Linked DNA regions of Homo sapiens: all the other regions are linked to region 1. Evidence: fine-mapped QTL for protein levels in blood plasma. A gene starts in region 1. Each other region holds a variant in brackets. All regions are shown on one strand. Distances are from middle to middle. Region 1 holds the start of MSMB (microseminoprotein beta). Region 2 has its middle 29 kb from the start of ALOX5. Region 3 has its middle 14 kb from the start of OR13A1. Region 4 overlaps ZFAND4 (zinc finger AN1-type containing 4). Region 5 has its middle 40 kb from the start of MIR3156-1.

Evidence for each region. PIP is the chance, under the fine-mapping model, that this variant and not a neighbour inherited with it causes the effect. Sun 2018 read protein levels with aptamers (SomaScan).
Region 2: its variant is fine-mapped to the plasma level of the MSMB protein (Sun 2018, PIP 0.95).
Region 3: its variant is fine-mapped to the plasma level of the MSMB protein (Sun 2018, PIP 0.95).
Region 4: its variant is fine-mapped to the plasma level of the MSMB protein (Sun 2018, PIP 0.95).
Region 5: its variant is fine-mapped to the plasma level of the MSMB protein (Sun 2018, PIP 0.95).

What each region holds. Positions count from the first base shown.
Region 1 is chr10:46,043,537-46,048,642 of GRCh38, reverse strand. It overlaps MSMB (microseminoprotein beta), which reads left to right and starts at 2,374. Exons shown (of 4, transcript NM_002443.4): 1 at 2,374-2,408. The coding sequence starts at 2,406. RefSeq lists an enhancer at 3,924-4,425.
Region 2 is chr10:45,343,086-45,348,191 of GRCh38, reverse strand. No RefSeq gene overlaps it. Among named protein-coding and RNA genes, the nearest start is that of ALOX5, 29 kb to the left of the region's middle. RefSeq lists a silencer at 4,185-4,386. The variant T/C (reference allele first, on the strand shown) is at 1,885.
Region 3 is chr10:45,326,586-45,331,691 of GRCh38, reverse strand. No RefSeq gene overlaps it. Among named protein-coding and RNA genes, the nearest start is that of OR13A1, 14 kb to the right of the region's middle. The variant AG/G (reference allele first, on the strand shown) is at 1,900.
Region 4 is chr10:45,617,499-45,622,604 of GRCh38, reverse strand. It overlaps ZFAND4 (zinc finger AN1-type containing 4), which reads left to right. Exons shown (of 10, transcript NM_174890.4): 9 at 4,345-4,465. Among named protein-coding and RNA genes, the nearest start is that of ZFAND4, 53 kb to the left of the region's middle. The variant T/C (reference allele first, on the strand shown) is at 2,505.
Region 5 is chr10:45,121,653-45,126,758 of GRCh38, reverse strand. It overlaps the pseudogene RSU1P2. Among named protein-coding and RNA genes, the nearest start is that of MIR3156-1, 40 kb to the left of the region's middle. The variant TTG/G (reference allele first, on the strand shown) is at 2,545.

The DNA.
Region 1 (5,106 bases):
AAATAAATAAAAAGAAAAATAAATAATTAAAAGAAATTAAGTTGGTTCCATCTATAAGGATGACAGTTGAGGTAGGATCAACACTGAAAACTGATCAGGCAGGTTTGGACAGAGCTGGCTGTCACACACCCGGAGAGCACTGCTCATTTCATTTGCCTTCCTCCCTGTGGGCAGCTGGCCACACCTGCTCTGAGCATCCCTTTCTCAACCCCTGGGGAGCAGTAGATGAGCTCATTTCAGCAGTGATATGGGTTGGTCTTGCCAGGATACTTTCTACTTGGGAATACCTGAGATAACCCAGGTGAAATCCTGTTCTGGGCAGCTGCTTTGCACCAGGCACCCTGCTGGTCACTGGAAGGCACACAGACAGGAATAGGTCACAGTCACTGTCTGGGTCACAAAGTTCTTAACTGCAAACAATAGAATTTACTCTAGGTCATTTGAGGTGGAAAGAGATTTGTTAGAGAATTCAAGCCTCTACTAACGGCCAGAGACACAGGCTTTCTTGGCACAAGTTCAGGTAGAGCACTGAAACCACACTGCTGCTTGGCTCCAGCAAGACCACCTTGCTACCAGTCACAGTCACAGCCCCCATGCACTGACACTGCACACTGGACTCCAAGAAACCCTTGCCCTAAGAGCCAGAACCCTCCACACCATCATTCCTAGGGAGATTCTGCATGATGCCAGTGTCCTTGGACCCTCTCTGAAGAGGACTTTTTGAGAGGAGAGTGTTTGTGGAGCCGAGGTTTGTGCCTGTACCCTGGAGGTAAGCAGGTGAGGGCAGCAAATCCTAGTTCCTCTCAATGTAAGGCAGAACTTCCCACTTCACACTGTGGGAAGTTCTTCAAACTTGGAGTTTTAAAAGAATCCAAGGGGCTACAGTGCATGATGAATGTGCCCCGATTTCCTGGAACTTAGAGTCGATGAACACTTAACTTATGCAGGTAAAGGCAGAAGTGTGTGGCACCGTTGGTGAGTGAGGAGGCAGCCAGACAGCACTACAGCTCTTCTAAGGAGCAGGAGAGTGACCTCAAGCTGTGTTAGGGGTGGTGAGGCTGATTTTAGGGAGGGTAGAGGATGGTGCTGGAAAGGGCCACTGTGGCCAGCTCAGATGAGCTTCAAGGATCCCCTGGTTAGGAGCATGAACTCTCATCTGTGGGCAGAGGGATCTCAGGTTAAATTTTAGGAACTGTAGCAAGCTGTGGCGAGGAGTGAGGGGACTTTTTGGGATAAAATTGTCTTATGAGCTCAATTGCATCCCCTAAAAATTCATTGGTTTAAGCCCTAACCCCCAATATCCCAGAATGTGACTGTAATGGAGACACGGCCTTTAAAGAGGTGGCTTAGGTAAAATGAGATAGTTAGAGTGGACCCTAATCCAATACAGCTAGTGTCCTTATCAGAAGAGGAAATTTGGACACAGAGAGAGATGCCAGGGATGCATGCCATGTAAGAGGCAGCAAGAGCATGGCCATCTGCAAACCAAAGAGAGAGGGCTCAGAGGAAAACAAGCCTTCCCCAATGGCTTGACCTCACATTTCTAGTCTCCAGAACTGTGAGCAAATAAATTTCTTTAGTCAAAGCCACCCAGTTGCAGTGTTTTGTTGTGGTGGCAGAGCAAACAGATAAAGTAGTAAGTCCCTCCAGCACCCTAGGAGGTTCTGCTTGTTGCCATTCCCCAAAGGCCATCCTAGCCATGATGAGGGCAGGTGCGGTTGTTTGGGAGGAGACCACTGTGGAACAAAGAGAAACAAGGCTTGCTTGATGCAGCAGGGAGTAGACTACAGATTCAAGAAGGGCTCTAGAAAGGTCCAGCAATTCAGCTTGTCAGGGAACCCCGAGCTGTATGTAGTTCTTGCTCTCCTGTGCCCTGCAGGATGGCTTGACCCATTTCTGTTCTCATGTCAGACCCTAAGGGCAGGGTCATCTGGGCCACAGACCCAGGCCCGGTGGGCCTGGTGGGCTGACCTGTGGGCTATTCTTATGCCTTCAGGAAACCCACCTTTACCACCTGGCTGTTGTGACTGGCATCGCTGAGGCTGTTTCTTTGTGTATAAAATCGAATAAGGACACATCACGTGCTAGCAATCCACCAGCATAGGGCGAAGGCTCAGCAAAGAGAAGTTCTCTCCTCCTCTGCTCTTTTAGGTCAGCAGCAAATGCAGATCGGGGTGGGGACAAGGTAAACACATAACTTGGGTGGAGATGTGATTGATTAATAACTCATAAATCATCTGAAACCATACTTTCCTTTTGATAGTCAACCCTCTGTAAACACTCAATGTGTTCTCACCTTGTTATCATTCCCAATGATGTCGAATGCGTGGTTGCCCTCTCCAGTATAAAAGTTTGATGCAGCTTTGCCTGGATGTACCTGTCTATAAGGAGTCCTGCTTATCACAATGGTAGGTAACTGGTTTTATATATAAAGGCTAGAAAAGCAAAAGAGAATATGTATTCCTATTTTAATATGCGTGTGCTTCTACCACATAGCATTGAATGGTAAATGTGACCTAGTTAGGAACCTTATGTTATTACCTGCAATTCAATGTGCAGAGTATGAGAGTCTGAGAGCTTGCGAAAATTGTAATGAGTTTAGCACTAGTTCTGTTCTCTAAGATCTAAGTTGTTTTTCCTTCCAGTAATTCTGGGGTTCAATTAGATTTCATAAGTGTCTCTAATTCTTGGGTCCTATGTGAGTAATTTGAAATTAAAAATAATTTCAGAGCTACATGACTGCATCGTTTTTGAGATGAGGGAACTGAGCCTGGGGAGGGGAAGAAGCTGCCACTGGGGTCTCACCGCAAGCCTGTGAATGAGCTGAGATAGGAACCCAGGCATTCCTCTCTCCCTGCCAGGGGCTCCCAAACTTGGCTGTGCAGTGGAAACTCCGGGGGAATTTTGAAGAACACTGACACCCATCTTCCACCCCGACACTCTGATTTAATTGGGCTGCAGTGAGAACAGAGCATCAATTTAAAAAGCTGCCCAGGTCATTTTAATACTCAAGTTTGGGAACCATTTCCCTAGGCCCTTTTCACTGTATCATGTGTTAAGGAAAAATCTTGGGTTTGGGGCTGTGTTTGTTGGTTTATTTGTTTGTTTTTGAGACAGGATCTCACTCTGTTGCCCAGGCTGGAGTGCAGTGGTGCAGTCATGATTCACTGCAGCCTGGACCTTCCTGGGCTCAGGTGATCCTCCCATCTCAGCTTCCCAAGTAGCTGGGACCACAGGCGAGTGCCACCATGCCCGACTAATTTTTGTATTTGTTTTAGAGATAGGATTTTGCTATGCTGCCCAGGCTGGTCTTGAACTCCTGGGCTCATGCAATCTGCCCACCTCAGCCTCCCAAAGTGGTGGGATTACTGGTGTGAACCACTGTGCCTGGCCAAGAAAGAATTTTGCTTCAAAATTTATAAAAACCCATGCAGGCTTTTCTTGTGTCTTAAACTTGATCTTTCTTAAAACATTCTTTACTAACGCTGGGGACTGAACTGGGCTGCTCTGGGGGCTGCAAGGGAGATGAGGCAAGAAACAGCCAGCCAAGTGGGAGGAGCCAAGGGAGGTGGGAGAGGGTCCTCAGGAGGGGACCCCGGGCCTCCTCTGGGCCACTCGGCAAGACAAACTTGCTCTCAGAAACTGTCCGGAGGCAGAACTGGGGATGGTAAAACAACAGTGGGGTGGGAGGTCCTCCCCATCTCCACTAGACAGGCTCCTCCAGCCTATACTCTATGCAGCCTCACAGTGAACTTAGCAAGCTGCAGAGCTGGCAATACCTCTGCCTGCCTAAGATCCTGAGGACCCCCAACTCTTTATTTATTTATTTATTTATTTTATTATTGTTATTTGTAGTAGAGATGAGTTTTTACTATGTTGCCCAGGCTGGTCTCTAACTCTTGGGCCCAAGTGATCCTCCCACCTTGGCTTCCCAAAGTGCTGGGATTACAGGTGTGAGAAATTATGCCTGGCCAGACCCCCAACTCTTGATCATGGGATAACCCTTCCAGGAGCAGTAATTTACCTAAAGAGATACAACTTTTTTTTTTTTTTTTTTTTTTTTTTTTCTGAGACGGAGTCTCTCTGTCGCCCAGGCTGGAGTGCAGTGGCGCAATCTCGGCTCACTGCAAGCTCCACCTCCCGGGTTCACGCCATTCTCCTGCCTCAGCCTCCTGAGTAGCTGGGACTACAGGCGCCCGCCACCACGCCCAGCTAATTTTTTGTATTTTTAGTAGAGACGGGGTTTCACCATGTTAGCCAGGATGGTCTCGATCTCCTGACCTCATGATCCACCCGCCTCGGCCTCCCAAAGTGCTGGGATTACAGGCGTGAGCCACCGCGCCCAGCCAAGAGACACAACTTCTAAGGATACTGCCAGCCTGCTTCACCTCAAGGCTCGCTGTACCATCTAGAAAATCCTAGCCCATTCTGGCGTCGTGGTGTAATCTCCTGCACACATCAGGAGCTCAGGGTTACTAAATGCAGGAAAGGAAGACACAAAGGGAAGGAAGGCTGGTGGCAGAATAGAAGACAGGAATGAAAAAAGCTTTAGAGCCTCTCTACTCAGGGGTGGACCTCAGACCAGCAGCGTGGGCATCACCTGGGAGCTTCCGTGTAAGTCTAAAGACCTACTGAAGCAGAATCTGCAGGTTAATTAACAGGCTGTCTGGTTGGGCGCGGTGGCTCACGCCCATAATCCCAGCACTTTGGGAGGCCGAGGCGGGCGGATCATTTGAGGTCAGGTATTTGAGACCAGCCTGGCCAACATGATGAAACTACGTCTCTACTACAAATACAAAAATTAGCCAGGTGTGGTGGTGCACTCCTGTAATCCCAGCTACTCAGGAGGCTGAGGCAGGAGAATCACTTGAACCCGGGAGGCGGAGGTTGCAGTGAGCCAAGATTGCATCACTGAACTCTACTCTAGGCGATAGAACGAGATTCCGTCCCAAAAAGAAACAAACAAACAGACAAACAAAACAAAACAAAAAAAACTCCCAGGAATTTATATGCACATTAAAGCAGCACTGGGTTGGTCATTGTTCCTGGGTTCTCACCTGGGAGACTAGGTAAAGACACTGAGGCACTGGCTCCTAGATTGTGTTT
Region 2 (5,106 bases), 700 kb after region 1:
AGAGGCGCCCACTTCCCAGATGGGGTGGCCGGGCAGAGGCGCTTCCCACCTCCCAGATGAAGGGCGGCCGGGCAGAGGCGCTCCCCACCTCCCAGACGAAGGGTGGCTGGGCAGATAGGCCCCTCACCTCCCAGATGGGGCAGCCGGGCAGAGGTGCTCCTCACCTCCCAGATGGGGTGGTGGCCAGGCAGAGGTGCTTGTCACCTCTCAGATTTGGTGGCAGCTGGGCAGTGGCTCTCCTCACCTCCCAGATGGGGTGGCAGCCGGGCAGAGGTGCTCCTCACCTCCCAGACAGGGCGGCCGGGCAGAGGCACTCCTCACCTCCCAGACAGAGCGGCCGGGCAGAGGCGCTCCTCACTTCCCAGATGGGGCGGCCAGGCATAGGTGCTCCTCACATCCCAGATGATGGGCGGCCAGGCAGAGACACTCCTCACTTCCCAGACGGGGTGGCAGCCGGGCAGAGGCACTCCTCGCTTCCCAGACGGGGTGGCCAGGCAGAGGCACTCCTCGCTTCCCAGACCTGGCGGCCGGGCAGAGGTGCTCCTCACATCCCAGACGGGGAGGTGGCCGGTTAGAGGCGCTCCTCACCTCCCAGATGGGGTGGCGGCTGGGCAGAGGCGCTCCTCACCTCCCAGACGGGGCAGCTGGGCAGAGGCACTCCTCATTTCCCAGAAGGGGTGGCCAGATAGAGGCGCTCCTCACTTCCCAGATGGGGCGGCCAGGCAGAAGCACTCCTCACCTCCCAGACGGGGTGGCTGGGTAGACATGCTCCTCACTTCCCAGACGGGGTGGCCGGGCAGAGGCACTCCTCACCTCCCAGATGGGATGGCCAGGCAGAGGCGCCCACTTCCCAGATGGGGTGGCCGGGCAGAGGCGCTTCCCACCTCCCAGATGAAGGGCGGCCGGGCAGAGGTGCTCCCCACCTCCCAGACGAAGGGTGGCTGGGCAGATAGGCCCCTCACCTCCCAGATGGGATGGTGGCCAGGCAGAGGCACTTGTCACCTCCCAGATTGGGTGGCAGCTGGGCAGAGGCTCTCCTCACCTCCCAGATGGGGTGGCAGCCGGGCAGAGGCGCTCCTCACCTCCCAGACAGAGCAGCCGGGCAGAGGCGCTCCTCACTTCCCAGATGGGGCGGCCAGGCATAGGTGCTCCTCACATCCCAGACGATGGGCGGCCAGGCAGAGACGCTCCTCACTTCCCAGATGGGGTGGCAGCTGGGCAGAGGCGCTCCTCGCTTCCCAGATGGGGTGGCCAGGCAGAGGCACTCCTCACTTCCCAGACCCGGCGGCTGGGCAGAGGCACTCCTCACATCCCAGACGGGGAGGTGGCCAGTTAGAGGTGCTCCTCACCTCCCAGATGGGGTGGTGGCCGGGCAGAGGTGCTCCTCACCTCCCAGATGGGGTGGCGGCTGGGCAGAGGTGCTCCTCACCTCCCAGATGGGGCGACTGGGCAGAGGCGCTCCTCACTTCCCAGATGGGGTGGCCAGGCATAGTCGCTCCTCATATCCCAGATGGGGCAGCCGGGCAGAAGCCCTCCTCACATCCCAGACAATGGGCGGCCAGGAAGAGATGCTCCTCACTTCCCAGACGGGGTGGCGGCCGGGCAGAGGCTGTAATCTTAGCACTTTGGGAGGCCAAGGCAGGCGGCTGGAAGGTGGAGGTTGTGGTGAGCCGAGATCACGCCACTGCACTCCAGCCTGGGCAACACTGAGCATTGAGTGAGTGAGACTCCGTCTGCAATCCCAGCACCCTGGGAGGCCGAGGCGGGCAGACCACTCGAGGTCAGGAGCCGGAGACCAGCCCGGTCAACATGGTGAAACCCCGTCTCCTCCAAAAATACAAAAACCAGTAAGGCATGGCAGCGCGCACCCACAATCCCAGGCAC[T/C]CGGCAGGCCGAGGCAGGGGAACCATGGGAGCCCAGGGCAGGGAGGCTGCAGCGAGCCGAGACCATGGCAGTACAGTCCAGCCTCGGCAACAGAGGGAGACTGAAGAAACAAAGAAAGGGAGAGGGAGAAGGAGAGGGAGAGGGAGAGGGAGAGGGAGAGGGAGAGGGAGAGGGAGAGCCATATGTAGTTTAAAGTAGTTTTTTTCCAATTCTGAGAAGAAGGTCATTGGTAGCTTGATGGGGATGGCAATGACTCTATAAATTACCTTGGGCAGTATGGCTATTTTCACGATATTGATTCTTCCTACCCATGAGCATGGAATGTTCTTCCATTTGTTTGTATCCTCTTTTATTTCCTTGAGCAGTGGTTTATATTTCTCCTTGAAGAGGTCCTTCACATCCCTTGTAAGTTGGATTCCTAGGTATTTTATTCTCTTTGAAGCAATTGTGAATGGGAGTTCACTCATGATTTGGCTCTCTGTTTGTCTGTTATTGGTGTATAAGAATGCTTGTGATTTTTACACATTGATTTTGTATACTGAGACTCTGCTGAAGTTGCCTATCAGCTTAAGGAGATTTTGGGCTGAGACGATGGGGTTTTCTAGGTATACAATCATGTCATCTGCAGACAGGGACAATTTGACTTCCTCTTTTCCTAATCGAATGCCCTTTATTTCCTTCTCTTGCCTGATTGCCCTGGCTAGAACTTCCAACACTATGTTGAATAGGAGTGGTGAGAGAGGGCATCCCTGTCTTGTGCCAGTTTTCAAAGGGAATGCTTCCAGTTTTTGCCCATGATGTATGATATTGGCTGTGGGTTTGTCATAGATAGCTCTTATTATTTTGAGATACATCTCATCAATACCTAATTTATTGAGAGTTTTTAGCATGAAGCGTTGCTGAATTTTGTCAAAGGCCTTTTCTGCATCTATTGAAATAATCATGTGGTTTTTGTCATTGGTTCTGTTTGTATACTGGGTTACATTTATTGATTTGTGTACGTTGAACCAGCCCTTGCATCCCAGGGATGAAGCCCACTTGATCATGGTGGATAAGCTTTTTGATGTGCTGCTGGATTCGGTTTGCCAGTATTTTATTGAGGATTTTTGCATCGATGTTCATCAGGGATATTGGTCTAAAATTGTTTTTTTTGTTGTGTCTCTGCCAGGCTTTGGTCTCAGGATGATGCTAGCCTCATAAAATGAGGTAGGGAGGATTCCCTCTTTTTCTATTGATTGGAATAGTTTCAGAAGGAATGGTACCAGCTCCTCCTTGTACCTCTGGTAGAATTCGGCTGTGAATCCTTCAGGTCCTGGACTGTTTTTGGTTGGTAAGGTATTAATTGTTGCCTCAATTTCAGAGCCTGTTATTGGTCTATTCAGAGATTCATCTTCTTCCTGGTTTAGTCTTGGGAGGGTGTATGTATGGAGGAATTTTTCCATTTCTTCTAGATTTTCTAGTTTATTTGCATAGAGGTGTTTATAATATTCTCTGATGGTAGTTTATATTTCTGTGGGATCAGTGGCGATATCCCCTTTATCATTTTTTATTGCATCTATTTGATTCTTCTGTCTTTTCTTCTTTATTAGTCTTGCTAGCGGTCTATCAATTTTGTTGATCTTTTCAAAAAACCAGCTCCTGGATTCATTGATTTTCTGAAGGGTTTTTTGTGTCTCTATTTCCTTCAGTTCTGCTCTGATCTTAGTTATTTCTTGCCTTCTGCTAGCTTTTGAATGTGTTTGCTCTTGCTTCTCTATTTCTTTTCATTGTGATGTTAGGGTGTCAATTTTAGATCTTTCCTGCTTTCTCATGCGGGCATTTAGTGCTATAAATTTCCTTCTACATATTGCTTTGAATATGTCCCAGAGATTCTGGTATGTTGTGTGTTTGTTCTCATTGGTTTCAAAGAATATCTTTGTTTCTGCCTTCATTTCATTATGTACCCAGTAGTCATTCAGGAGCAGGTTGTTCAGTTTCCATGTAGTTGAGTGGTTTTGAGTGAGTTTCTTAGTCCTGAGTTCTAGTTTGATTGCACTGTGGTCTGAGAGATAGTTTGTTACAATTTCTGTTCTTTTACATTTGCTGAGGAGAGCTTTACTTCCAACTATGTGGTCAATTTTGGAATAGGTGTGGTGTGGTGCTAAAAAAAATGTATATTCTGTTGATTTGGGGTGGAGAGTTCTGTAGATGTCTATTAGGTCCGCTTGGTGCAGAGCTGAGTTCAATTCCTGGGTATCCTTGTTAACTTTCTGTCTCGTTGATCTGTCTAATGTTGACAGTGGGGTGTTAAAGTCTCCCATTATTATTGTGTGGGTGTCTAATTCTCTTTGTAGATCTCTAAGGACTTGCTTTATGAATCTGGGTGCCCCTGTACTGGGTGCATGTATGTTTAGTATAGTTAGCTCTTCTTGTTGAATTGATCCCTTTACCATTGTGTAATGGCCTTCTTTGTCTCTTTTGATCTTTGTTGGTTTAAAGTCTGTTTTATCAGAGACTAGGATTGCAACCCCTGCCTTTGTTTTCCATTTGCTTGGTAGATCTTCCTCCATCCCTTTATTTTGAACCTATGTGTGTCTCTGCATGTGAGATGGGTTTCCTGAATACAGCACACTGATGGGTCTTGACTCTTTATCCAGTTTTCCAGTCTGTGTCTTTTAACTGGAACATTTAGCCCATTTACTTTTAAGGTTAATATTGTTATGTGTGAATTTGATCCTGTCATTATGATGTTAGCTGGTTATTTTGCTAGTTAGTTGATGCAGTTTCTTCCTAGCATCGATGGTCTTTACAATGTGGCATGTTTTTGTGGTGGCTGGTATGGGTTGCCCCTTTCCATGTTTAGTGCTTCCTTCAGGAGCTCTTTTAGGGCAGGCCTGGTGGTGACAAAATCTCTCAGCATTTGCTTGTCTGTAAAGGATTTTATGTCTCCTTCATTTATGAAGCTTAGTTTGGTTGGATATGAAATTCTGGGTTGAAAATTCTTTTCTTTAAGAATGTTGAATATTGGCCCTCACTCTCTTCTGGCTTGTAGAGTTTCTGCCAAGACATGAGCTGTTAGTCTGATGGGCTTCCCTTTGTGGGTAACCTGACCTTTCTCTCTGGCTGCTCTCAACATTTTTTCCTTGATTTCAACTTTGGTGAATCTGACAATTATGTGTCTTGGAGTTGCTCCTCTCGAGGAGTATCTTTGTGGCATTCTCTGTAGTTCCTGAATTTGAATGT
Region 3 (5,106 bases), 720 kb after region 1:
CACCCAGATTCATAAGGCAAGTTCTTAAACACCTACAAGGAGACTTAGACTCCCACACAATAATAGTGGGAGATTTTAATACCCCACTGTCAATATCAGACAGGTCAATGAGACAGAAAATTAACAAGGATATCTAGGAATTGAACTCAGCTCCAGACTAAGCAGACCTAATAGACATCTATAGAACTCTCCACCCCAAATCAACAGAATATACATTCTTCTCAGCACCACATCGCACTTATTCTAAAATTGACCACATAATTGGAAGTAAAACACTCCTCAGCAAATGCAGAAGAATGGAAATCATAACAAACAGTCTCTCACACCACAGCGCAATTAAATTAGAATTCAGAATTAAGAAACTCACTCAAAACCTCACACTTACATGGAAACTGAACAACCTGCTCCTGAATGACTGCTGGATAAATAATGAAATGAAGAAGGATAAAGATGTTGTTTGAAAACAATAAGAATAATGTACCAGAAACTCTGGGACATATTTAAAGCAGTGTGTAGAGGAAAATTTATAGCAGTAATTGCCTACAAAAGAACACAGGAAAGATCTAAAATCGACACCCTAACATCACAATTAAAAGAACTAGAGAAGCAAGAGCAAACAAATTCAAAAGCTAGCAGAAAACAAGAGATAACTAAGATCAGGGCAGAACTGAAAGAGATAGAGACATGAAAAACCCTTAAAAATCAATTAATCGCTCTCCCTCTCCCTCTCCCTCTCCCTCTCCGTCTCCCTCTCCGTCTCCCTCTCCCCACGGTCTCCCTCTCCCTCTCTTTCCACGGTCTCCCTCTGATGCCGAGCCGAAGCTGGACTGTACTGCTGCCATCTCGGCTCACTGCAACCTCCCTGCCTGATTCTCCTGCCTCAGCCTGCCGAGTGCCTGCGATTGCAGGTGCGCGCCGCCACGCCTGACTGGTTTTCTCTGCCCGGCCAGCCGCCCCGTCCGGGAGGGAGGTAGGAGGTCAGCCCCCCGCCCGGCCAGCCGCCCCATCCGGGAGGTGAGGGGTGCCTCTGCCCGGCCGCCCCTACTGGGAAGTGAGGAGCCCCTCTGCCCAGCCACCACCCCGTCTGGGAGGTGTACCCAACAGCTCATTGAGAAGGGGCCATGATGACAATGGCGGTTTTGTGGAATAGAAAGGGGGGAAAGGTGGGGAAAAGATTGAGAAATCGGATGGTTGCCGTGTCTGTGTAGAAAGAAGTAGACATGGGAGACTTTTCATTTTGTTCTGTACTAAGAAAAATTCTTCTGCCGTGGGATCCTGTGGATCTGTGACCTTACCCCCAACCCTGTGCTCTCTGAAACATGTGCTGTGTCCACTCATGGTTAAATGGATTAAGGGTGGTGCAAGATGTGCTTTGTTAAACAGATGCTTGAAGGCAGCATGCTCCTTAAGAGTCATCACCACTCCCTAATCTCAAGTACCCAGGGACACAAACACTGCGGAAGGCAGCAGGGTCCTCTGCTTGGGAAAACCAGAGACCTTTGTTCACTTGTTTATCTGCTGACCCTCCCTCCATTATTGTCCTATGACCCTGCCAAATCCCCCTCTGCGAGAAACACCCAAGAATGATCAATAAAAAAATAAATAAATAAAAATAAAAATAAAATAAAATAAAATAAAAAAAGAAATAAACACAAATAAAATGTTAAAATTCCCATTCTACATAAAATCATCTATAGATGTTTTTAAATATACAACATGATTATCAAGGACTTAATCTGTACCACATTCTTGTAGATGTAAAGTTAAAATTCTTGTAACCATCACTCTCAACCCTACCCTATCTTCCAGCATAAATGAGACTTTCACATGTTTTCTCTTGCCCAGATGGAGACACTAACTGTAGGCTTTGGAAATGTCTTAAAAAAAAAAAAAAAAAAA[AG/G]AGAGCCAGGCATCTTCAAACAGAGAAAAGCTGTTTGAACACATTTATCTAAGTCTATCAAAAGCTATGATTGTTAGCAAGAGGTAACCTTGTAATGCCAAGGCAGAAAACTGCCACCAAACCACAAAAAGCTTGTTCAACTGCTGAACCTAAAATTAAACAATTTATCTCTCATTAAAAAAAAAAAATCAATTAATCCAGGAGCTGGTTTTTTTTTAAAGATCAACAAAATAGATAGACCACTAGCCAGACTAATAAAGAGGAAAAGAGAGAAGAGTCAAATAGACATAATAAAAAATGATAAAGGAGATATCACCACTGATCCCACAGAAATACAACCTACCATCAGAGAATATTATAAACACCTCTATGCAAATAAACCAGAAAATCTAGAAGAAATGGATAAATTCCTGGACACATACACCCTCCCAAGACTAAACCAGGAAGAAGTCAAATCCCTGAATAAGCCAATAACAAACTCTGAAATTGAGGTGGTAATTAATAGCCTACCAACCAAAAAAAGTCCAGGACCAGACGGATTCACAGCTGAATTCTACCAGAGGTACAAAAGGAGCTGGTACCATTCCTTCTGAAACTATTCCAAACAATAGAAAAAGAGAGAATCTCCCTAACTCATTTTACGAGGCCAGCATCATCCTGATACCAAAGCCTGGCAGAGACACAACAAAAAAAGAAAATTTCAGGCCGAAATCCCTAATGAATATTGATGCAAAAATCCTCAGTAAAATTCTGGCAAACCGAATCCAGCAGCACATCAAAAAGCTTATCCACCATGATCAAGTTGGCTTCATCCCTGGGATGCAAGGCTGGTTCAACATATGCAAATTAATGAACGTAATGCATCACATAAACAGAACCAATGACAAAAACCATGTGATTATCTCAATAGATGCAGAAAAGACCTTCGACAAAATTCAACAGCCCTTCACGCTAAAAACTCTCAATAAACTAGATATTCATGGAACATGTCTCAAAACAATCAGAGCTATTTATGAGAAACCCACAGCAGCCAATATCATACTGAATGGGCAAAAACTGGAAGCATTCCCTTTGAAAACTGGCATAAGACAAGGATGCCCTCTCTCACCACTCCTATTCAACATAGTATTGGGAGTTCTGGCCAGGGCAATCAGGCAACAGAAAGAAATGAAGGATATTCAATTAGGAAAAGAGGAAGTCAAATTGTCTCTGTTTGCAGATGACATGACTGTATATTTAGAAAACCCCATCATCTCAGCCCAAAATCTCCTTAAGCTGATAAGCAACTTCAGCAAAGTCTTGGGATACAAAATCAATGTGCAAAAATCACAAGCATTCCTATACACCAATAACAGACAAACCGAGAGCCAAATCACGAGTGAACTCCCATTCACAGTTGCTGCAAAGAGAATAAAATACTTAGGAATCCAACTTACAAGGGATGTGAAGGACCTCTTCAAGGAGAACTACAAATCACTGCTCAATGACATCAGAGAGGACACAAACAAATGGAAAAACATTCCATGCTCATGGATAGGAAGAATCAATATCGTGAAAATGGCCATAATATCCAAAGTAATTTATAGATTGAATGCTATCCCCATCAAGCTACCACTGACTTTCTTCACAGAATTGGAAAAAACTACTTTAAATTTCATATAGAACCAAAAAAGAGCCTGCATAGCCAAGCCAATCTTAAGCAAAAATAACAAAGCTGGAGGCATCACACTACCTGACTTTAAACTATACTACATGGCTGCAGTAACCAAAACAGCATGGTACTAGTACCAAAACAGATATATAGACCAATGGAACAGAACAGAGGCCTCAGAAATAACACCACACATCTACAACTATCTGATCTTTGACAAACCTGACAAAAACAAGCAATGGGGAAAGGATTCTCTACTTAATAAATGGCATTGGGAAAACTGGTTAGCCATATGCAGAAAGCTGAAACTAGATCCCTTCCTTCCACTGTATACAAAAATTAACTCAAGATGGGCTAAAGACTTAAATGTAAGACCTAAAACCATAAAAACCCTAAAAGAAAACATAGGTAATACCATTCAGGACATAGGCATGGGCAAAGACTTCATGACTAAAACACAAAAAGCAATGGCAACAAAAGCCAAAATTGACAAATGGGATCTAATTAAACTAAGGAGCTTCTGCACAGCGAAAGTAACTACCATCAGAGTGAACAGGCAACCAACAGAATGGGAGAACATTTTTGCAATCTATCCATCTAACAAAGGGCTAATATCCAGAATCTACAAAGAACTTAAACAAATTTACAAGAAAAAACAAACAATTCCATCAAAAAGTGGGTGAAGGATAAGAAAAGACTCTTCTCAAAAGAAGACATTTATGCAGTCAACAAGCATAGGAAAAAAAGCTCATCATCACTGGTCATTAGAGAAGTGCAAATCAAAAACACAATGAGATACCATTTCATGCCAGTTAGAATGGCCATCATTAAAAAGTCAAGAAACAACAGATACTAGAGAGCATGTGGAGAAATAGGACCACTTTTACACTGTTGGTGGGAGTGGAAATTAGTTCAACCATTGTGGAAGACAGTGTGGTGATTCCTCAAGAATCTAGAACTAGAAATACCACAATAGCAAAGACTTGGAACCAACCCAAATGCCCATCAATGATAGACTGGATAAAGAAAATCTGGCACATATACACCACAGAATACTATGCAGCCATGAAAAATGATGAGCTCATGTCCTTTGCAGAGACATGGATGAAGGTGGAAACCATCATTCTCAGCAAACTAACACAAGAACAGAAAACCAAACACCACATGTTCTCACTCATAAGTGGGAGTTGAACAATGAGAACACATGGACACGGGTTGGGGGGGTATCACACACTGGGGCCTGTTGGGCTATGGGGGGCTGGGGAGGGATAGCATTAGGGGAAATACCTAATGTAGATGACAGGTTGATGGGTGCAACAAACCACCATGGCACATGTATATCTATGTAACAAACCTGCACATTCTGCACATGTACCCCAGAATTTAAAGTATAATAAGAAAAATAAAAATAAATAAGTTAAAAGAGATTAAAAAAATAAAAGAGAACATTTGCCACATTCAGTCTTTCTAGATGGAAAGAGGTTGCTGACATATGATAGAATTAGAAAATCACACATCTTGTAAATTCTCATTTGTTTAAAAAGAAATCATACAA
Region 4 (5,106 bases), 430 kb after region 1:
TCTAGAAATGGAACCACTGCTCTTTTGACAGGTGCTATCTCAGTGGCATCACTGGAAAGTCCAGAATGCCTGACACATTAGGAAATCCGATGCCTGACACATTAGGAAATCCAGTTTGTCTATTTTCTCCTTTTGTTACCTGTGCCTTTGGTGTCATATCCAAGAAATCACCACCAAATCCAATACCATGAAGCTTTTCCCCTATCTTTTCTTCTAGAAGTTTTATAGTTTTAGGTCTTATGTTTAGGTCTTTGATCCATTTTGAGTTAAAATAGAGTGTAAAGTAAGGGTTCCACTTCATTCTTTTGCATGTGAACATCCCATTTTCTTATTAACTTTTGTTGAAACACTGTCCTTCCTCATTGAATGGTCTTGGCACCCGTGTTGAAAGTCATTTGATCATGTATACGAGGATTTGTTTCTGGACTGTCTACTCATTGGTCTATGTGTCTGTTTTATGCCAGTATCACATCGTTTTTATTACTGTAATTTATTGACTTTTAATGTTATAGTTGTTGTTTTTCGTTGACACATAACTCTGTCCTGCCCTAACGCACAACTGATCTTCTTGGAAATTTGCATTGCACCCATCCCTACTCACTCAGCTCTAGTTCAGTCTTCAGTGCTGGTTCACGTCTCACTGCTCTTCTGAAACTGCTATTGCCGTGGTCACTGACAATCTCCATAATTTCAAATCCATTGGATGCCTCCATATCTTTATCTTATTTGATTTTTGTGTCCTTCATTCTTGAAATAGTTTTTTTTAAAAAAAATTCTAGGCTATCACATTGTTATAAATTTTTACTTTTGTTTTAATCTTTTTTTAACCTCAGTTTTTGTTTGTTTGTTTGTTTGTTTTTTGTGAGGTGGAGTCTCACTCTGTCTCCCAGGCTGGAGTGCGGTGGCACGATCTCGGCTCACTGCAAGCTCCACCTCCCAGGTTCACGCCATTCTCCTGCCTCAGCCTCCCGAGCAGCTGGGACTACAGGTGCCCGCCACCACACCCGGCTAATTTTTTGTATTTTTAGTAGAAACGGGGTTTCACTGTGTTAGCCAGGATGGTCTCGATCTCCTGACGTCGGGATCCGCCCACCTCAGCCTCCCAAAGTGCTGGGATTACAGGTGTGAGCCACTGCGCCTGGCCTTAACCTCAGTTTTCTTCTGTCCTTTTTTTTTTTTTTTTAACCAGCCCTCTGCTTGTCCCCAGATATATGCTTTTTTGTTTGATTTCATTTAGATTTGAAGTATCAGCTGCTAGCTGCAGTAGAGCTGTGTAACTTGCTTCCATTTTTCTCTCACTGTAATAACTATCATTCTGAATTATCTAGAAGAGTCTATATACATTTTGATGCAAGTTTCATTTAATTGACTTCCTAAATTCCTCCATTGGTCCTCTGTTCTTTTCACTATAAGGTTTCCCTTGGAAACTGTATTCATTATTATAGATTTAGCCATTGATTTTAGGCAGACGACTACCAGCCTTGCGTCTGGAACACTGATTTATTACTTTTTGCTGCCTTTCTGTTGGGTCAGTTTTTGTAGATCCTGTTAGATGTTAGATAAAATATGAGACTAGGAAATGGCAAGCAAGTGAATTACCTCAAGTACCTTTCATCTTGTTGTGAAAAGCAACTCTTACCATCAATATGATTTTATGGGTTTTTTTCTTTATTCATCTGTTCAGTACACATTTGAGAGAAGGCTTCAGAGAGGAGTTGATAATTGATGATGTCTTACAGGATAAGTCAAATTCTACTGGGTTGACAAGGTAGAGTTTACTTTAGAAGAGATTGCAGATGTGGAAGGACTTGGTACATCCTTCGGGGTAGGTATGACATGGTAAATTACAGTGTCTCTGGATAGTTAGAAAGGCATTATATTGGACATAATAATACCTTAAATGCCAGTCCAAGGAATTTAGATTTTTCCTGTTTATAGTGGGGAATCAATATGTTTATTGATGGTTCCTAGTACACAGTAGTTGCTAATAGTTTTCTCTATTGGTAGAAGGATGTATGGAGGCTGCTCTCATAGAGTACTGCACTTATATTTTTGTGCTACCTCATTACTGTCACTAATGTATTCTCTGTCTCTACACATTCGCAAGAGTTCTTTTTTTTTAGACAGAGTCTCGCCCTGTTACCTGATTAGGCTGAAGTGCAGTGGCACGATCTCGGCTCACTGCAACCTCTTCCTCGCGGGTTGAAGTGATTCTTCTGCTTCAGCCTCCTGAGTAGCTGGGACTACAGGCGCGTGCTACCATGCCCAGCTAATTTATGTATTTTTAGTAGAGACGGAGTTTTACCATGTTGGCCTGACTGGTCTTGAACTGACCTCAGTTGATTCGCCCACCTTGGCCTCCCAAAGTGCTAGGATTACAGATGTGAGCCACCGCGCCCAGCCTCACAAGAGTTCTTAAATGAAAAAAAGTATGGAGAATATCAAGTTAAGCATCCCCTAAGAAAAGAAAAAAAATGAAAATGTGACTACAGTGAATTAAATTA[T/C]CATCAGAGATTCTTCCACCATTGTTTAAGGAAGAATATCCTAAGCCTGAATTTTAAAGATGGTTTCGAGTAGATTAACATTCATTGGACATCTTGTAATATATGCCTTTCTTTGGTGTCTTGTGCAAGTGCAAGTAAATATCTTTTTAAAAATACTTTAAATAATGGAATTACTCCCTCACCTTTGTGAGATGTTCTTGGTATCTCTAAGTGCACTTGAGAAAGAAAACGTTTATTAACTGAGTTGGTACCCAGGCACCATTAGGAGTCTCTCAATTGTTTCAAATTTTGTTTCTAGTTTTGGCAAGATCTGGAAGTGTATTTTATACTGGTAATAAAGAAGATTTAATTTTGCTGGGCTTGTGTACAAATTACCTAATCTCTGTTGTGACAAAAAAAAAAAGACATAGAACCAATTAATTGTAAATCCAATTTTTTGAACCCTTTAAGAAATTTCAGACTTTTAGCTGCCAACTAAATACCAAGCTTAGGCCTCCTAAACCTTTTTCAGTAGTGGAGAAAAGGTCCCAGCACCATTGACACTACCAGTTTTTCCTCACTCCTTCCACTTGTTCTTGCATTCTTTCTTTGCCTCTTGCTTCTTAGCCTTTGTGTGACACCAAGCACATGTGTATTTGTACTGTTACTTTATCAACTATGGGCAGGAACTTTGAGCCTCTCTGCTTATGACTGGGGTTTGTTGGCATTTTGATCAGTTCTAAAAGACATTTAACTTAGTAATTAAAGAAATTGATTTGGCCTGGCGTGGTGGCTCACACCTGTAATCCCAGCACTTTGGGAGGTTGAGATGGGCGGATCATGAGGTCAGGAGTTCAAGACCAGACCAGACTGACCAAGATGGTGAAACCCCGTCTCTACTAAAAATACAAAAAAAAAAGCTGAGCGTGGTGGTGCGTGCCCATAGTCCCAGCTACTCGGGAGGCTGAGGCAGAAGAACCACTTGAACCCAAGACACAGAGCTTGCAGTGAGCCGAGATTGCGCCACTGCACTACAGCCTGGGCGACAGAGCAAAATGTCTCAAAAAAAAAAAAAATTGATTTAATTCTTTCTTATATAATAACAGATGTGCTCTTATTTTTAAGGTAAAAACTCAAGTTGATACAGTAATACAGAATTCAGTAAATATTTTTGGAAAACTAGTAGTACTGTGAAATTGAGCTGTGTACTGTTAGTTACTATTATTAATATGACATTTTATGTAATTATAACATGCTTAAAACTTTCAGAGTGCTTTTTACATATATGGATTGAGTTGACCTTAAAGTGCTTATTAACCTAGAGAGAAAAATACATGTTCTATTATGTTAAAAATAAACATATTGAAGTTTTGAAAGAATAAATGACTTGCTCATGGTTTGATGAACTGTCAGTGGTGTAATAGGACTAAAAGGCATGTTTCATGATATTCTGGTACTTCTTTTTGGTGTGAACAAACAGAATATTTATATTGCAATCATGTTCTCAGAGGCTTCATCAAATATGATTTTGAAGCAGACATTTTTCTTTATTCTCTGTCAAAATTTGGTGTACTTTATATAAACTGATTACCATTAGAAATAATGAGGAAAGTGGTGTGTATAAAAAGTTCTAAAAATATAAGTGCTAATCAGTAGAAACCTACCACATCTTAAAAGAAATAGTTCCACTGCAACTTGACCTGTAGATTTTATAAGTAATTTTAGATATAAAAATAGCACAAATTAATTTTTATGGCATAGATATTTACTTTGATAGGACTATGTTTTGTGTTTTGCTTAATAATATTTCATGTTTAGGATTTTATGCCTGTGTTAATCAAGGTGTCCTTTCTCTAAACAGGAGAATGTACTACTCATCACCTCCCACCTGTGAAAGCCCCTCTTCAGACAAAGAAGAAAACAACAAATCATTGTTTTCTTTGTGGAAAGAAAACAGGACTGGCTAGTAGCTACGAATGCAGGCAGGTTGGCGAGCTGGAGAAGCTCAGATGCTTTCTCTGTGATAACCCAGCTTGGGGATTATGCAAAATAAAATATTTAAATTGCCTGTTTATAACATCATTAAGATGATGTTCAATAGCTATCTTCAGTTGAACTTCTAATTGGCTGAAGTAAAGAACAAGTAGATAGCTCATGGGTTTCCAAAAGACAAAAACAGATCCTTCCTTGTCCTTTAAGTTAGGAGGTTTAAACCAATCTGAGAGTGTACCTTTTTCGTCTTATGATGAACCTGCTTGGATTTTGTTTGAGTGGCACCTTGGAAGAACCCCTCCCTGAATATTCTATTAAAAATTTAATTAAAAAATTAAAAGTTAATATAAAATAGATGAATAATATATTTCCAAAAAAGTATGACCTTTTTCTTACTGTAATTATTTATTTCATTAGTATTGATTGATATCCTCCAAGGATGTTATGTCATATTATCTTGGATGTCTGCCCTTAGATTGGGGCTAGGCTTGAATTAAAATAACTGCTGCTGCGGACTTTTTTTTTTTTTTTTTTTTTTCAGTACTGTAATCATAACTCACTGGAGCCTTGATGTCTTGGGCTCAAGCGATCCCCCTGCCTCAGCCTCCCTAATAGTGAGGACTATAGGCAT
Region 5 (5,106 bases), 920 kb after region 1:
TTCTTTTCATTTAATAGGGTGGAGGGTGGCAGAAGGGAGAGGAGCAGAAATCACTGGCAATTGGGCATGTGTTGCTATTTTTGTCTTTAGTGAGTGAGCTCCTGAGATTGTCCCATGGGAGGATCTGTTGACCCAGGGACCCAGAACCAGTGCAACCCAAGGCCAGCGGGTGAAGTTGAAGAAGTGTCCGCCCGATGGCATCTTATCTATTCTCAGCTTGTAGACTGTGGCCACCCCCTTGCCCCCATTCTCTTTGTTCTCGGCCCCACCAACCAAAATGTACCTGTTCCAGAATCCTTTTTCTTGAGGTCCTGTACTGTGCTAAGTGGCAGCTAGCTAACATGCTAATTCCTCCACAGTATATTTTTAAATGGAACCACCCCAATCGTGAGAACTTCAGAACGGTGGCAGGCTGTGGAGAAAATAAGATGGGGGAGTGTAAGTCTGTCACTTTCCAACTCCTAGTTAGCCCATGTGCACGGCTGATCCTGAAAAAGATTTCTTTTGCTATTGATGATAGAATGTCTATCAAACAGAATTGATGTAATAGCAAAATATTATACATAGATTTTCAGTTGATGCACTCTCTCCTAAATAACTTGGTGTGTGTGTACATGTGAGTGTATGTACAGGATGTTAGAGGAGATACACTAAGAAGTGCGATACTTAGGTACATACATTCTTCTAGAGCATCTCTTCTCTTTTTTTATGTTTTTATTTTTTAGAGATAGTGTCTTTATCACCCAGGCTGGAGTGCAGTGGCATGATCCTAGCCCACTGTAACCTGAAACTCCTGGGCTCAAGCAAGCCTCCTAGATGGATGTGCACCACCACGCCTGGCTAATTTGCCCAGGCTGGACTCGATCTCCTGGGCTCAAGTGATCCTCCTTCTTCGGCCTCCCAAAGTATTGGAATTACAGGCCACTGTGAGCCACTGTGCCTGGCCTTCTTAACTTTTCTTAAGTCACTGACTTTTTTAAATAATAGAGTGAAAACTACAACCCTGATCCATAGAGAAGTGCACGTGATGGTTCTAATTTCAGCAGGCTTATGGATCCCATTGTGTTCATCCATGAATTTTTTAGAGGTCTACGTAGCTCAGATTTAGAAACTCCAGAGTTGGGTGAAGATAACACTAGTATGTTTGTACGCAGTGTGGACATAGTGATGCTATTTTTTTTTTTTTTTTTGAGACAGGGTCTCACTCTGTCATCCAGGTTGGAATGCAGTGGCATGATTTCGGCTCACTGCAACCTCCGTCTCCCAGGTTCAAGTGATTCTTCTGCCTCAGCCTCCCTAGTAGCTGGGACTACAGGCATGCATCACCATGCCCAGCTAGTTTTTGTTTTTGGTAGAGACGGCTTTCACCATGTTGGCCAGGCTGGTCTTGAACTCCTGGCCTCAAGCTATCTATCTGCCTTGGCCTAGTGATGCTATTTCTTAAAGGAGATGCTTCTTGGAAATTTGTTTAAAACTTTAGATAATTTTTAATGCATCACAGAACTCATTCTTAATGGCTTCTTAAAAATTGTTGATAAGTGCCACCTTATTTATCTGCTTAAATTTACATTTGGTTAAATAAGAATTTGTAATCTTTAGCTCCCAGGCTTGAATGGAACATGGTGTGGACACATGCAGATACTTTTAAATGGAATACCTTTCCCATTTCCATTTTTCGCTTTCTTCGTCAGTCAGCCTCATAGGCCAAAACCACTTGAATACAATTGATAACCAGTTAACAAACTAATGGACCTTGCATTTTGCTGTTTTCAGTCTGAACCCTCTTTTGTCTAATTTTTTGCTATTTCTTTAGCTTCTTTTCCCCTGCCTATATATTTTTTGTTCTAGTTACCTGTTTTTTTCTAAAATCTTAAGTTCCTACCCCTCTCTCTGAATTTTGCTCATCCTTCAGAAAGTTGAGATGAATGCTCATCTTTCTCTGTGAAGCCCTCCTTTTCATCCAACTGAACCAGCAATGTGTGGAAAGAAATACAAGGTACCCCACAGCCTGGGGACCATCAAGAACAACACCTATGTAATAACTTCAGCAGGAGATGAAAGGGAAAAGAGCAAATTTGTTGAACCCCCACTCTATATCACGTGGAGGAAACAGGTGTAAAGTGGTTAAGTGACCAGAACGAGGGAACGACAGAGCTTTCTGCATGGCTTCCAAGTGGCTGCTCCACCATGTCCCCTGCTGTCTCTGCAAGTGATGTGTGTGTGCACTTGTGCACTTGAGATGCCCCATCAGGTCAATCTAGGAACGCCATGGACAAAGTGTTCCTGTGGCTCTGGATCCTTACTCATTCCATTAGAAGAACAGGGACATTTCCTAAGGTTAAAAGCCATAGCTGTGTTAGTTCAAAGGGGAAGATCAAAGCTCCCATGTGGATTTGGTGGATTTTCCCAGCCCTGGGCCTCTTCCTTTCCCTCCCATTCCTGCCCTCCTCATGCAGTGACCCTAAAGATAAGGTCCAGTAGGAAAAGAAGCAGTCCAGTTTTGGCCTCTTGCTGGATTAATTCCTTTTTTTTTTTTTTTTTTTT[TTG/G]AGACAGGGCCTTACTTTGTTGCCCAGGCTGGAGTGCAGTGGTGCAATCTCGGCTCACTGCAGCCTTAACCTCCAGGTTCAAGTGATCTTTCCACCTTAGGCTCCTGAGTAGCTGGGACTACAGGCATGCACCACCATGCCAAGCTAATTTTTTGTAGAGGTGGGGTTTTGCCCTGTTGCCCAGGCTGGTCTGAAACTCCTGGGCTCAAGCAACCCACCCATCTCAGCTTCCCAAAGTGCTGGGATTACAAGTGTGAGCCACTGCACCCAGCCTAGATTAATTCTTAATTGTAAAAGAAGACAGAAACTAATGACAAAACATGCTTTTTATGTGTGCGTGTAAGAGAGTGCAAGATAGAATGTGACTTGCTTACTGTCTACCTCGTAATGTTAATAATCGAGGCTTACATATAGATATACATTCATATATATTATACATAATAAAGACATGTACTCATATAAAAGAGCCTAGATCACTCCTTTTATAACACTGAGCTTGTTATTCTCCATTGATGGGTTGAAGTTTTTTTTCATATTCTCTTTCTCTCTCTTCCCGGTGTTTTGGAATTTCCTGGGCATTTTTCCTACCCTTCCTTTTCTTACCCTTCGCTGGATGTCACTTCCTCCCCAGGCCACTGAATGCCATTGAATGCCACTTCCTTTCCTCTCAGCGCTGCTTCTCCCTCCCAGCTCCCCAATTAAAGCTCTTTATTCATGTATGGCTTTGCTGGAGGGGTAGCGCATCAGAACTGGAGTGCAATTTAGAAGCGGTGTTCCTGCAAGAATTCAGAGTTCATATGTCCTCCTGAAGATGCTTTGGAAGTTAACACAAGATTCAGAAATTAACTAATTTTTATATGCTCAGAGGAGAAGAAATCTATGCTTGTCAGTTTTTTAGGAGATTTGTTTGGTTATGCATACACCTTTTTATAGCTCAGGAACATATATTTTTGCACGTTTGGCTTTATACACTAAAATCTACCTTATTACTTGCTTATACCTTTTTTCTCTAATTTTCATGCAATTCATTTTCACATTGCTGCTGAAAGAGTAGGACCATTGTGTTGCAGTGAGTTAAGCCAGGGACATTTTTGTTTACTAAATAACTTAGGCTATAGAATCCTGAGGCGGCTCATAATAGCATAGAGTGAGCATGTGCTTTCGGGGCACAGGTTCTCAGTAAATACTTGTTGTTTATTAACTGAAAGTAGCATTGCCTTTGTTATTTATAAAACTAATAATATTTGGAGAACTTTGTTATTTATAAAGCTAATAATATTTGTTGGCCTTTCTTGGGGTAGATGCTTCGATATTTTGCTATTTTATGTTTACCTTGAGGAACATGTAGAACCTTTTAAATGAGAATTTGTTTCACTGTTTCATAAACTTTAAATAACCTAGAACTACTGTAATTCACTGCTTTAATAGCTGCTTTGGGTGAAATTCCGTAAAATCTGTGAAGCCAGTTATCATTAGTATACTTTCGAATTTCAAACTCTTATGGTAATATGTAATAAGTTCATTATCCACCTTGTGTTTTTGGCCAGAAAACAAAGGTAATTAATCACTATGACTACAAATGACCTTTTTTTGCATATAAAGTGCTTAGGAGGACTTGAAGGTAATTAATCAGTATAACTACAAATGACCTTTTTTGCATATAAAGTGCTGAATAGTTTAATTATTCCTACGCGAGAGTGAGAAGATTCTTCTTTATGTAAAATCATTAAAATGGCATCGAGAACTATGATTTGCTGAAAGACTTGGCATGTCTATAATTAGTCTAGACACCACCTTTGTGCTGTGAATGGACTAATGTTCTCCAGTTATTATGGCTAGAGATTAAAAAGCCTGTGCTTTCACTTTGACCACGGATGCCCCAAGTCATATTTCATCACGTTTCTGCTAATTTGTTTTTTTTCTCCCTTGCTTCATTCAGGCCAAAGAGGGGCACTTGTTTTTCAGTATCATATTCATCAAATGCTGGGGCAAGGAAATGTTTACTTTCACCATTTTCTCATAAGTGGTCCTTCCCTCTCCCGTATATATAATGAATAATCTCACTCATTTTCATCTATTCTCAGGTTTTTAGTGGTTTTTCTAGTAACTTAATTGTAGTAATGTAACATACTAAGTTATCTAAGTGACAAGCTCATTTTAATATCCTCTACCATCCTCTATCCTTCTATGCTTTATTTTAAAAAGCTGTAGAAATATACGACATTGTGAACATCTGACCAGGCATTTTCATTTGTTACGGCAACAGACAAAAACCTCCTTTTTTTAAAATAGCAGTATGTCAGGTTTTTAGAAGCAATGCTACTCAGCTTCATTTTGCTGTGACTCATTCCATGTGGTTTCTTTGGGGACCCTTTGGCCTGAGGGTAGGTGGCATTTTTGCATCCTGGAAATGGGCACAGCACAGTATGTTGCCTCCATTGCAGCACAAGGGCGGGCATGCCCCTGTGCCACCTGCTGTCCTAGCCCTGGCTGTGAGCAATTGCCTGCCCTAAGTCCTCCTCTTCATTCCCTTGCTGTAATTCACCATCCATCACTGGAA